Linked DNA regions of Homo sapiens: all the other regions are linked to region 2. The links come from fine-mapping of genetic effects on gene expression. A gene starts in region 2. Each other region holds a variant in brackets. All regions are shown on one strand. Distances are between the middles of the regions.

Region 1 (2,750 bases), 70 kb after region 2:
CCACTTGCAAGTTATGGTGCAGGAGTTGGCGAAGGGTTATAGAAATAAACAAGGTAAGGCTGGATTCTGTCCCCTAGAGAAGCATAGGAGCACATGTGAGACGAAGAACATGACTCTGGAGCTAGATTGCACTGTGTGACTTTGAGCAAGTTACTTAAATTCTCTGAGCATCAATTTCCCATCTCCAAATTGAGGATGATAATAATATGTAGGTATGTTATGAGGATTAAATGCTTACTGTTTACAGAGGACCTAGAACAGTGTCTGACACACAGTAAACACAATATAAGTATTTGATTAACAAATAGATGAAAGCTTTGTACATTGGAAAAAAGGACACGAGGTCAGAAATATGAAGAATAACGTTAAATAATTATGACTTGCTGATAATTTTCATGTAATATATCAGATAAGATTACATACTCCCTTCAAAAAATGATAGCACATCTCCTTTAATGTAAAACCAAACTATAATGTTACAAAAGAAAATAAAATTAATAATAATATATCAATATTGGTTTATTAATTGTGACAAATATACAGGAAAAAATGTTAGGAGAAATTGGGTGTGGGGTGTATGAGAACTCTGTACTATCTTTGCAAAAATTAAGTACATTGAAAGATATTCTAAACTAAAATTCTATTTTTTAAAAAAGAATATATGGCTCATGACTGTAATCCCAGCACTTTGGGAGGCCAAGGCGGGTGGATCACAAGGTCAGGAGATCTAGACCATCCTGGCCAACATAGTGAAACCCCGTCTCTAGAAAAATACAAAAATTAGCTGAGTGAGGTGGAACGCGCCTGTAGTGCCCAGCTACTCGGGAGGCTGAGGCAGGAGAATCGCCTGAAGTGGAGGTTGCAGTGAGCTGAGATCGCATCACTTCACTCCAGCCTGGCAACAGAGCGAGACTCCCTCTCAAAAAAAAAAAAAAAAAAAAAAAAGAATATGAATTAAGGAGTAATTATTTACTTCACAGAAATGTTGATTGTTAAATGACAGAATTTAAGAGCTGAGTCACAGTAATCTTGAATTCACCTTGTCTATTTTACAGAGGAGTGTTGATTTAGGCTTGCTTCACAC[G/A]TGGCTAATTTTCAAGATCAAATTCACACAGGAAAACAAGGGGGGCAGAAAGACAAAGCACTAACCTAGAAGGTGAGGTGCATCATGTTTCACTCAATGTGGCCGTGGCTCAGGCACATCACAGTAACAGTTCTGGACCTCAGTTTTTCATTGGTTACTTTCACTCTAACATTCTTGATTCTAAACTTGATGTGCATCTACATCACAACATAAGGCAGCTCTGGGGAGCAGGCTCTAACTGATGCTTTCTCCAAGCCCCTAGAAGCTATGCATATGCAGTTTGTGTGCCAATTTCTGAGTGTGTGTGAGGAAATGCAGGGGTGAATCGATGGACAAATAACTAGACAAATATATTTGTTTTAAAGACTCAACATTGAGGACCAAGTTTTCATAGTGAATACCATTCAGCAAGTCGATTAATCAGATTTGGATAGGAGTAAATGTGGGCAAACCTTGACAATAAAATATTTACTGAAAGTCTGCAAGGGGAAGATGACATTCTAAATAGGTACATGCTATATGTTATTAACAGATCAAATTTGATTTAGAAAAGGAGAGATCTGGAATTTCCTATAAAAGCAAGAAAGACTATGAACTAACGCAAGAAATTTTGAAGCTGAAGGAAAGAAAGCTTATAAAGAGTTCAAGATAATGGGGCCTGATGCTGGCTGATGTTGAAGAAATGCTGTTACCAATAGCAGGCAGACCTGGATCTGACAGCCACCTGTTGAGAAAGCCCTGAAGAATAATGGCAGCTATTCAGTCAACAAATTTGGGGAGAAACTCAATTGCCCCAGAGGCCCTTTTCAATTCTGCTACTAGTTTTCATGAACAAATTGTCATTCTTATTGTAATGCTTACTTTACTGTGAAAGTCATGATATTTTTCTTCTGTAAAATACTATCCTAACACAGTCAATAATAATTAATGAGTGGTAACCCAGTGATTCATGGGCTATAATTTTTTTTACCAAGTAAATCATAGTCTCATCTTAGCAAGTTATTAAATGGATAAAAGTCCTTCAAATCCTGCAAATCATTTGATTTAAGACTTAATTCATGTTCAATGAAATTTATTTTTTTAACTATTTTAAACAGCATTGATTGAGACAAAAGCTCAAGAAAATGGGTAGTTTCTACATTGCTTTGAGATTGATGCTATTTAAAAGATTTGTGCTTGAAATATTGAAAACTAATGGCCACCCTAATTGTTCTTCTAAAGCTAAAGCTATTAAATAACCATCTTCAGAAGTATCCCTTGGAGCAGGTTTACTCGTGAGCATAGTATTCATGTTCTAGAAGCCAATGATGTTTTTTAGGTGGAACAAAAGGGATTTTCCTCTGCTTACATTTTATCTGGAAATATGTTTCATCAAGCAGACAGCCAGATGGAAATAGCAAGATTTTTTTTATAGTCAATAAATAACTCTGCTGCTAGAATAACTCAGACTTGACAGCAATCTACGCAACAGTTTATTCTTCTGCTCTCTCAGGATGTAAACACTGTTGTCAACAACCAATCAGATGCACTAAAGCTACAAATAGCATGTTTAGTTTATATGTATATGCAATCAGCTAAACAAAATTTTGAACATCAATGGGACCCATTTCTAATCACTTTGTTCTTGTTCAGGTCCATCACACTGCATAACTTCAGGGGGCACCAA
Region 2 (2,500 bases):
ATCCAGCTGCGAGTCTGCCCACCGTTCCCCCATTCCCTCCTGACCCCATAGGGCACTGATAATGGATGCACACCGGCCACTCCACCGCAGGCCATCCCCCAACGTGCCCCGGCTCCGCTCGCCACCCGCTGGGCCACACACACGGCTCCCCACGCCACCACCCCATGGGGTGCCGCGGCCACGACACTGGAAGTTCAACCCCTCTGCCCACCTTTCCACCCCCGCGCCTCTGGTCGGAGTGATCTGCCATTTAGCAGATGCACAGCAGATAAGGTACAGCCCTCAGGGACACGAAAAGGAACAAGCCAAGGCACCGGGCAGGGCAGCCCCGACCCCTGTGCTGCGTGTGTGTGTCGCTGTGTGTGTGTGTGTGTGTGTGTGTGTGTGTGTCTGTGTGTAACGCGCCCGCGCGCCCGCGCGGGTGAAGGCAGTGGCCGGGGGCGCGCCCGGGAGGGTAGGGGCGAACCGCGGGCGCCGGGGGGCGGGGGCGCCGAAGGCAGCTGCCCCGCAGGGCCAAGGATGGTGGGCTGGGGGCGCAGAGGCCCGGCGGGGCCCCGGACGGTACTCACCGAGCAGCAGCAGCTTGAGCTCCCGGCGGGCGTCCCGCTTGTCCCTGCGGAGCTGCCGCTCGATCTCGTCGTTGATCCGCCGGGCTTCCTTGGCCTCCTCGCTCAGGCAGCACGCCATGATGGACTCCAGAGTCATTCTTCCAAAGTGCCTCCGCTGCAGCCCCGCCGGCACCCCCTGCTCACAGCGCGCACACACACCCTCCCGCCCTCGCTCCCCCGAGGCAGCGGTGGCCGCCGAGCCCCCGCCGCCCGGGCGCGCGTCCGGGACGAGCTCCGGGAACCGCCGCGGGGGCGGCGGCCAGGGCCGGGGCCACCAGGTGGGCCGGGGGCGCGGTGGGAGCGGATAGTCTGGGCCGACGGGAGAAGAGAGGCGGGCGCGGGAGGCGGGCGCTGGCTCGGGGGGCGCGTGAGAGAAGGCCGCCGCGCCCGGCCTCGCTCAGACGCCCGCGCCTCCTTCCCCGGGAACAGGCGGCCCGCCTCGCCCCCCGAGCCGCCGCCGCCGCCGCCGCCTGCGAGGCTCCCCTACGCCGTGCGCCTGGCGGCGAGAGCTCATTCACCGGGGTGTCCCCGCAGCGAGCGGCCGCCGACGGCTCCCCGCGCCCGGCGCGCCCGCTCCTCGCCGCCGCCTGACACGGCTCCCGGGCGCCCTCGGCCCTGTCCGCGCCCACCGCCCGGCTCGCGCGCAGACCCGGTTCCCGTCCCGCCCGGCAACCGCGCGCTCCTCCGCCTCCGCCTCCGCCCCCGCCCCCGCCAGACGCCCACCCCCTGCCCCGATTGCCAGGCGCGGAGCGGCTGCTCAGTGCGAGCCCTCCCCCTCGCCACACACACACATTTTCTTCTTTCTCTGAACTGGAGCACAGATCCGGGAGGGAGGAGGCGGCGGCGAAAGGAGGAGGAGGAAGAGGCGGAGGGGATGGGCGCGGGAGGAGGGAGCCGGGAGGCGGTGCCGCCCGGCCCCTCCTGGAAGGCTTTCCTGGGCTCGCGGCCGCCGCGGCGCGCCTCCCAGTGCGGCTCTCGCCTCGCCCGCGCGGCTCCCGGGCTGGGCCGGCCCCCGCGGGCTCTGCGGACGCCTACTGCTCCCGCACCCTCGGCAGAGTCCGCGGGCGCAGCAGTCACGGCCGCCCCCGGCCGAAGTCGGGGCCAGACCCGGCCGCCGACGCGCAGCCCGAGCCGGCGGCCGCCGTTGCGTGCCAGGGCCGCAGCCGACCTGCGGCTGCCGTCCGGCCGGGCGTGGTGAGACAGGAATATGGCGGCCTCTGCCTGCCTCAGCCCACCGGCCCGGGAGCGCGGCCGCGGCCCCTGCTGAAGTCGCGGGAGGCGGCCCCGCGGAGCCCCGCACGCGCTCCCTGCGGCGCCGGCGCTGGCGTCCGCCGCTCCCGGGCTGTGCCTGTCTGCTCCACGGGGTCGCTCCTCAGCCGTTTCTGTGTTTCCCGTTCCTATTTCTAAAACGCCATTCGGTTAGAAACTCTCACGTCACCTCTGACACCGGTGCAGTCTTAGAAAATAAGCTCCTCTATACTGTGTGGGGCTACTGGGGAAGGGAAGGGAAGGAATTGGCACCGGTGCCCAGAGGTGTAGGGGGAGATTCACAGGCGAAGCTGTTCGCAAAGTAACGTGAGATAGAAATCTAAATCCTGAACAGAGAAAGGAAGCTGCCCAAGTTTCCAAGAGCCTCCCGATAGGTTCCAACTTTTCATGCCTTTGTTTTTTTGGTGGTTGTTGGTTGTTTTTGTTTTTTTAAGTTGTTTTTGTTTTTGTTTTACAAGTTCTCTTGTTTCTGAGAAGGCACACGATGTTTAGCCGCCGAGTAATCGAATTTACTCTTCTAGACTGAGATTGAATTATGGATGACTTATGGGAAAATGTAAAATAATGTGGAATAAAAGGAAAGGAAAGAATGAAATAGAAGAGAAACTAAGGAGGCCCCAGCA
Region 3 (2,750 bases), 180 kb after region 2:
GTCCATGTGTTCTCATTGTTCAATTCCCACCTATGAGTGAGAACAAGAGCAAATCTTTCTTATGCAATTGGCTGTTCCTTGAAGATTTTGACTGAGGAATCAAGATACAATATATATTGCACTTCAAAGTGAGTTGCTAAAACAAAATACAAATTTTCAAAATAAGTATCTGAACACCAATGACAGAACTCATCCCTCACACACATTAAAAATACAAAGAGGATGAAGTACATGGAGGTTGAAGGTGAAACTGGGAGGAGGATTTTGGAGATAGATGTTGGAGTGCTAGATACCTCAACAAGGGTGAGGAATAGAAGATGTTTCCCACTTAACGGTTTTAAGGAGCCCACATAGAGAATTCAAGATGTGCTACATTCAGTTTAAGGCAGCAGTGTCCAATCTTTTGGCTTCCCTGGACCAAAAGAAAGAATTGAAAGACAATTGAAAGAATTGTCTTGGGCCATACATAAAAATATACTAACAGCAGCTGATTAGCTTTAAAAAAAATTTGCAAGCAAATGTCATAATGTTTTAAAAAGTTTATGAATTTGTGTTGAGCTGCATTCAAAGCTATCCTGGGCTGCATGCAGCCCATGGGCCACAGGTTGGACAAGCTTGATTTAGGGGACTATACTTGTGTCTGATTCCCACTAAGAAATGTAAACACAGTGAGATAGAAGTATTTAGAAGCTGATCTAGGAGAGGTGGCTGTGGCCAAAGAAAGTGTATTTCCTGAGGAAGAGGTTTGTACCACTCTTGAGAGGCAGGCAGTCTGGGAGCATCAAGAATCTTTCTGAGGGCTATCTGAAGACTAAGAGAACATCAGAAGAAGGAAGCTAGCTGTGGGTCACTGGATGGTGAGAAGTCGCAAGAGGAGCTGCCAGTGACCAGCTAGAAGAGACATCATTTCCCACATCAAAGAAACGGAAAGAGAAGCATCCCCCAACAATGGCAGCTTTCATGATAACCCACAAAAAATGCACATAAGAGAAAAAAACAGCTTCACGCTCCAGCAAGCAGAAGCCATCCACTGACAACATCAATCAAATAAGAACTTTCTCGCCCTTTTCACTTCCTTTCCCACCTTGCAGTTCCAGCCTGAGGAAGCCAAGACAG[A/C]CTTTTACAGGTGGCCTAATCATAGCCTTGATGGGCAGATGGAGGGAAAGTGCTATGGGTAGGATGGAGAAGTCGACCTTGTCCTGAAACAGTACCACAGTGGGAAAGGCAGGATGATTGACCTTTGAACGAAGATTAAAATTTTGATCATCGCGTGGGACTATAGGAGTTTTCAATCAGGAGAGAGGAAGAACGAAACAGTTAAAGGGGCACTGGGAAATAAGAAATTGTTTTACAGTTATATCACATGAGTTGTCTTTATTCCACATAGTGGCTACACAAAAGAGGGCTTTTCAAATGCCCGTATCCTTTGACTCAGTCATTTCACTGCAGAGAAAGTGTCCTGCTGTAGCTTTGTAGTCGAAAGCAGCTTTTTTGCTTGTTTGTTTATTTGTTTTCAGGATAGATGTTCATCTTTGCTCTTGGAATGTTACTCTGAGGTTTTCTTGGTTAGGCAAATCTAAAGAAGGAATGAAGACTCCATTGTCTGGTAATTAAGATATACTAAGACTTCCATCTCCAAAGGAAAATGGAGCAATACTCTCCCCATGCCAGCCTACCTTTATGAATTAAAGAGGTCCATGAGGCTAGGTTGAGAGCCAGTAGGAGGCTAGCCAATAGAGTCATTGAAATAAATTAACCATGGTACTTCTGGAGAAGTGGTTATCCCTATAAACCCAAAGCGCTAAAGCCTGGGACTCCGGCCTATTCCAGCCCATGAGAGTATAATACAGTGGGGTTGCCTTCTCTTGCAAGAGTGCCGAGGTTACGGAAGGGCTCTGGTCCAGCCCAACAGGGAGCTCCAGCAGCTTCAGAGACACCTTCCCTGTGTAGCAGTTTTTACCTTCATGAGGCCCAGACTTTCAGGTGGGAGAAATTTAATGGAGGGCCTTGGGACTTCTACCTTAGTGACTCAACCAAGTCCCAGTGCCATCTTACCCGGCACTTATTTCAGCTCCAAGGGACAGTAATACCACAGCCTTACTGTGGTTCCATCCCCCGACCTGGGGCCAGGGTGCCTTAGATGCTTTACAGGTGGCAGGATGAGCACCTTAAAGGGACTTCAGAGGGGTATCATGGGTGCCTTATCTCTGAACACAACCTATGCCTTCTAATGCACTTTCTCAGCACTACAGCTGCTCCATGAGTGTGGGACTTCACTGCAACTTCTACACCTCCCACCCAAAGCTAGTGTGTAGTGGGCAATGGCCCTGCCACAGGGTCAGCACACCAAGGCCCTCAGAGTCCCACGCTGGGACTCCTTCTTCTCAAGGCATCTGCAAGACTAGTTCTCACAGAGATAAGGTGACAACCTCTGCTTAATAACCATCTTTAAGTGTATGAGCCTGCTATTTTATTTTAACTTCAGTATTACTTCCCTGCCTTACACAGGTGTAAAATTTCAATCCCCTGGCTACCCTTTTATGGCTTGATGGGCATTTAAGATGACCTCTCTGTGGTTCAGTTTGGCCCAGAATTGTTTACTTGCATCTTTGATGAAGAGGAATTTTGTTTACAGCCTCTAGGCTTCATTCAGGCAGACCCTATTTCCAAACAATCCTTTTACAGAGGTAACTGGGAGGCACTAAAGAAAAAGCATGTCACTTAAGTAGGGAACTCATACTGTTGCAGGG
Region 4 (2,750 bases), 100 kb after region 2:
GGCTTCAGTGGAAGTCCTTCCAGCAATGAGAACTGCTTAGCCACAATCCAACAATAAGGCATCTATTTTCTATTTCTTGGTAAATTCCCTCCTGTAGCAGGAGAAAAATAACATTAGGTCTCTTTCTCTTCCTTCCTCTCTCCAAAACTTTCATTCTTGTTTAGGTGAAACATTTAGAAGAAAAAACAAAACTTTAAATGTAGTTTTTTTTTGGTAATATATACAAAGATATATATATGGAGAACATATATTAGACTTTGCATCTAACACCATTTTTCCTGGCAATATTTCTTCAGAAAATCAAAAAGAAAACTGTTTATCATTATTCATAACAAAGTCGTTATTCTCCTACAACAGTTCTTTGGATAGGTATTCTAAATTATTTTGCACTGTTTATGCACTTTTTTCAAAATGTTTCTCTTCTGATTAGGTTTTCTGGCTTCTAATTAATTTGCACTATTTTCACATTTTTTCAGATGCATATATTGATCTAAGATTCCACATAATAGCAAGCTGGAACTAAAACTGTAAGTGATCAGAAAAATATGAAAGCAGGAGAAATAATCCTGCATGTACCAAAGAACAATCAAAGTATTGTACATGAGCACTGCATGCAGAATAAACTGTGGTCTGGAAATCAAGAGACTTTGCCATCCTTCAGGTCATTCTGTGTGACCTTGGACAAGTGTGTGGCCTCTTGAATATTTTACAGAAACATGAGTTTCTTGATCTGTAAATTAAGTGGATTGGGGGATAAGATTTTTAAACTCCTTTCCACTGATAAGATTCAAAGACTTCCACTGATTATTGGGAATGTAGAATAATTCACAGATAGAACTTAGCAACAACAATAGCAACAACATCAACAACATTAACAGCTCCCATTAAATAAGGATTTATGGCTAGGCGCAGTGGTTCGTGCCTGTAATCCCAGGACTTTGGGAGGCTGAGGCGGGCAGATTGCTTGAGCCCAGGAGTTCAAGATGAGCCTGGGCAACGTGGAGAAACCCCGTCTTTACAAAAAATACAAAAATTATATGGGCGTGGTAATGCGTGCCTGTAGTCCTAGCTACTAGGGAGGCTGAAGTGGGAGGATGGCTTGAGCTCAGGAGGTCGAGGCTGCAGTGAGCCATGATCATGCCACTGAACTCAAGCCTGGGCAACAGAACGAGATCCTGTCTCAAAAGAAAAAAAAAAAAAAAGCACTTAGTCCCTGCCAGGAGCTGTCTGTTTTTTATGTATTATCTTCTCCGATTCTTATAACAACTACTTGAAGTAGAGATTATTTCTTCCATCACGTAGATGAAAAAACTGAGGCTAAGAGAGAGTAAATAACTTTTCCTAGGGCCCACAACTAAAAGTGGGGAGGCTGGATTTGAATCCAGGTCTAATTTTGAGGTTTGTGCTTTTAATACAAGACCAATTCATAACCTTTGGTACATGGAATT[C/T]TGGGGGCTATCTTCGCATTATACCATTGCTGCTGTTGGGTAGGGTAGCAAAGGAGAGGAGACAGATAGACAAGAGGCCGTTAAGAGTTCTTTTTGTTTCAGAAAATGAATATAACTAAAAGCTTCTTCCACTCCCTAGAATAGTCAGTTGTGGTGGGCCAATGAATTTCTATACCATGTTGGAAATTTATAGCTGTGAGGGCATTCTGAAAATTTCCACTAGACAAGAAGTGATTTGAGCAGCCTAAGACAGATGAATCTCCCAGTTGAGGCTTAGAACAGACAGCTCCAGATCTGGCTTTCTGGCTAGCCTGGATGCCAGTGATTCACTCATTGTGTGATTAAGTGGCAGGCTTATGTTTCTAGAGCTAATGATTCTAAAGCTTTCTGTGGTATTAAACTAACACACATAAAAAAACTAAAGGCAATTAGAAGCAATCAAAACATTTGGAAAGTAAGATTCAATTTCTGCATTTGCTAAACTCTTCATCAAGAAAATCAGTAAATTTTTTTTAAAAGCCATGAACATGATACACAGAAAATTAAAAAAGCAATCAGTTTTAAAATGTACATGCGCTTTCCAGAATGCTTAGGACACTTAGGACTGAGCCATTTTTCACTTGTCTTATTTTGCTGCATTTATTCAGACATGTGAACACTCTCTTGAATAACATTCCTCTTTCAATTTTGACAGATGAATGGGTATGTAACTCCTCAAGTGCCAGAAAAACCCTTAGAAGCATCAAAGAATAAAAGCCACACTGAAATATTTATACAAGAATTTCCAGCAAATAGTAGTGGGCAGGCTTCCCTTATTCGGGCTTAGGTGTGTATGATGTTTGAAAAATCTGTTAAGTCACTTTTGACCAGGTCAGTCTCAACGTTTGTCAATGTACCATCTCATTTGGCCTCTAAGAACCTACACAGTGATATAGAAGACAGGATAGGAAGTTATCTTTCCATCCAGGAAACCATTTGACTTCTTCAGTTAGCACTTTCACTTTCATTTTTCTCAGGGCAAAATTCAATACCTTTTAGAATACAAAGTAGGGCCTTTTAACGTTTCAGTTGAATATCCCCTCTTGGCCAGTCATTAATCATTCATATCTTTGGCTCTGAAATCTTTAATGACCACTGAATAGGTTAAGCTTTACTAAATGTGAAGAGATCTAGGTGTTGGTCAATGTGTGTGTATGTAGATGTACATTTTGTGTGTTTTGGAAGGGGTTGCAATAAATATTCGTGTCTTAAAGAATGTGAAAATAAAGGAAACCAAAGTGCCACTTCTATTTTTAAATTCCC

Evidence for each region. PIP is the estimated chance that this variant, and not a neighbour inherited with it, causes the effect.
Region 1: its variant is fine-mapped to the expression of GNAQ in whole blood (TOPMed, PIP 0.93).
Region 3: its variant is fine-mapped to the expression of GNAQ in whole blood (TOPMed, PIP above 0.99).
Region 4: its variant is fine-mapped to the expression of GNAQ in skeletal muscle (GTEx, PIP 0.99).

Annotation. Positions count from the first base shown.
Region 1 is chr9:78,100,303-78,103,052 of GRCh38, forward strand. No RefSeq gene overlaps it. Among named protein-coding and RNA genes, the nearest start is that of GNAQ, 70 kb to the left of the region's middle. The variant G/A (reference allele first, on the strand shown) is at 1,085.
Region 2 is chr9:78,030,531-78,033,030 of GRCh38, forward strand. GNAQ (G protein subunit alpha q) reads right to left here and starts at 1,281. Exons shown (of 7, transcript NM_002072.5): 1 at 570-1,281. The coding sequence starts at 705. RefSeq lists an enhancer at 470-1,364.
Region 3 is chr9:78,210,149-78,212,898 of GRCh38, forward strand. No RefSeq gene overlaps it. Among named protein-coding and RNA genes, the nearest start is that of CEP78, 25 kb to the right of the region's middle. RefSeq lists an enhancer at 849-1,168. The variant A/C (reference allele first, on the strand shown) is at 1,117.
Region 4 is chr9:78,130,420-78,133,169 of GRCh38, forward strand. No RefSeq gene overlaps it. Among named protein-coding and RNA genes, the nearest start is that of GNAQ, 100 kb to the left of the region's middle. The variant C/T (reference allele first, on the strand shown) is at 1,449.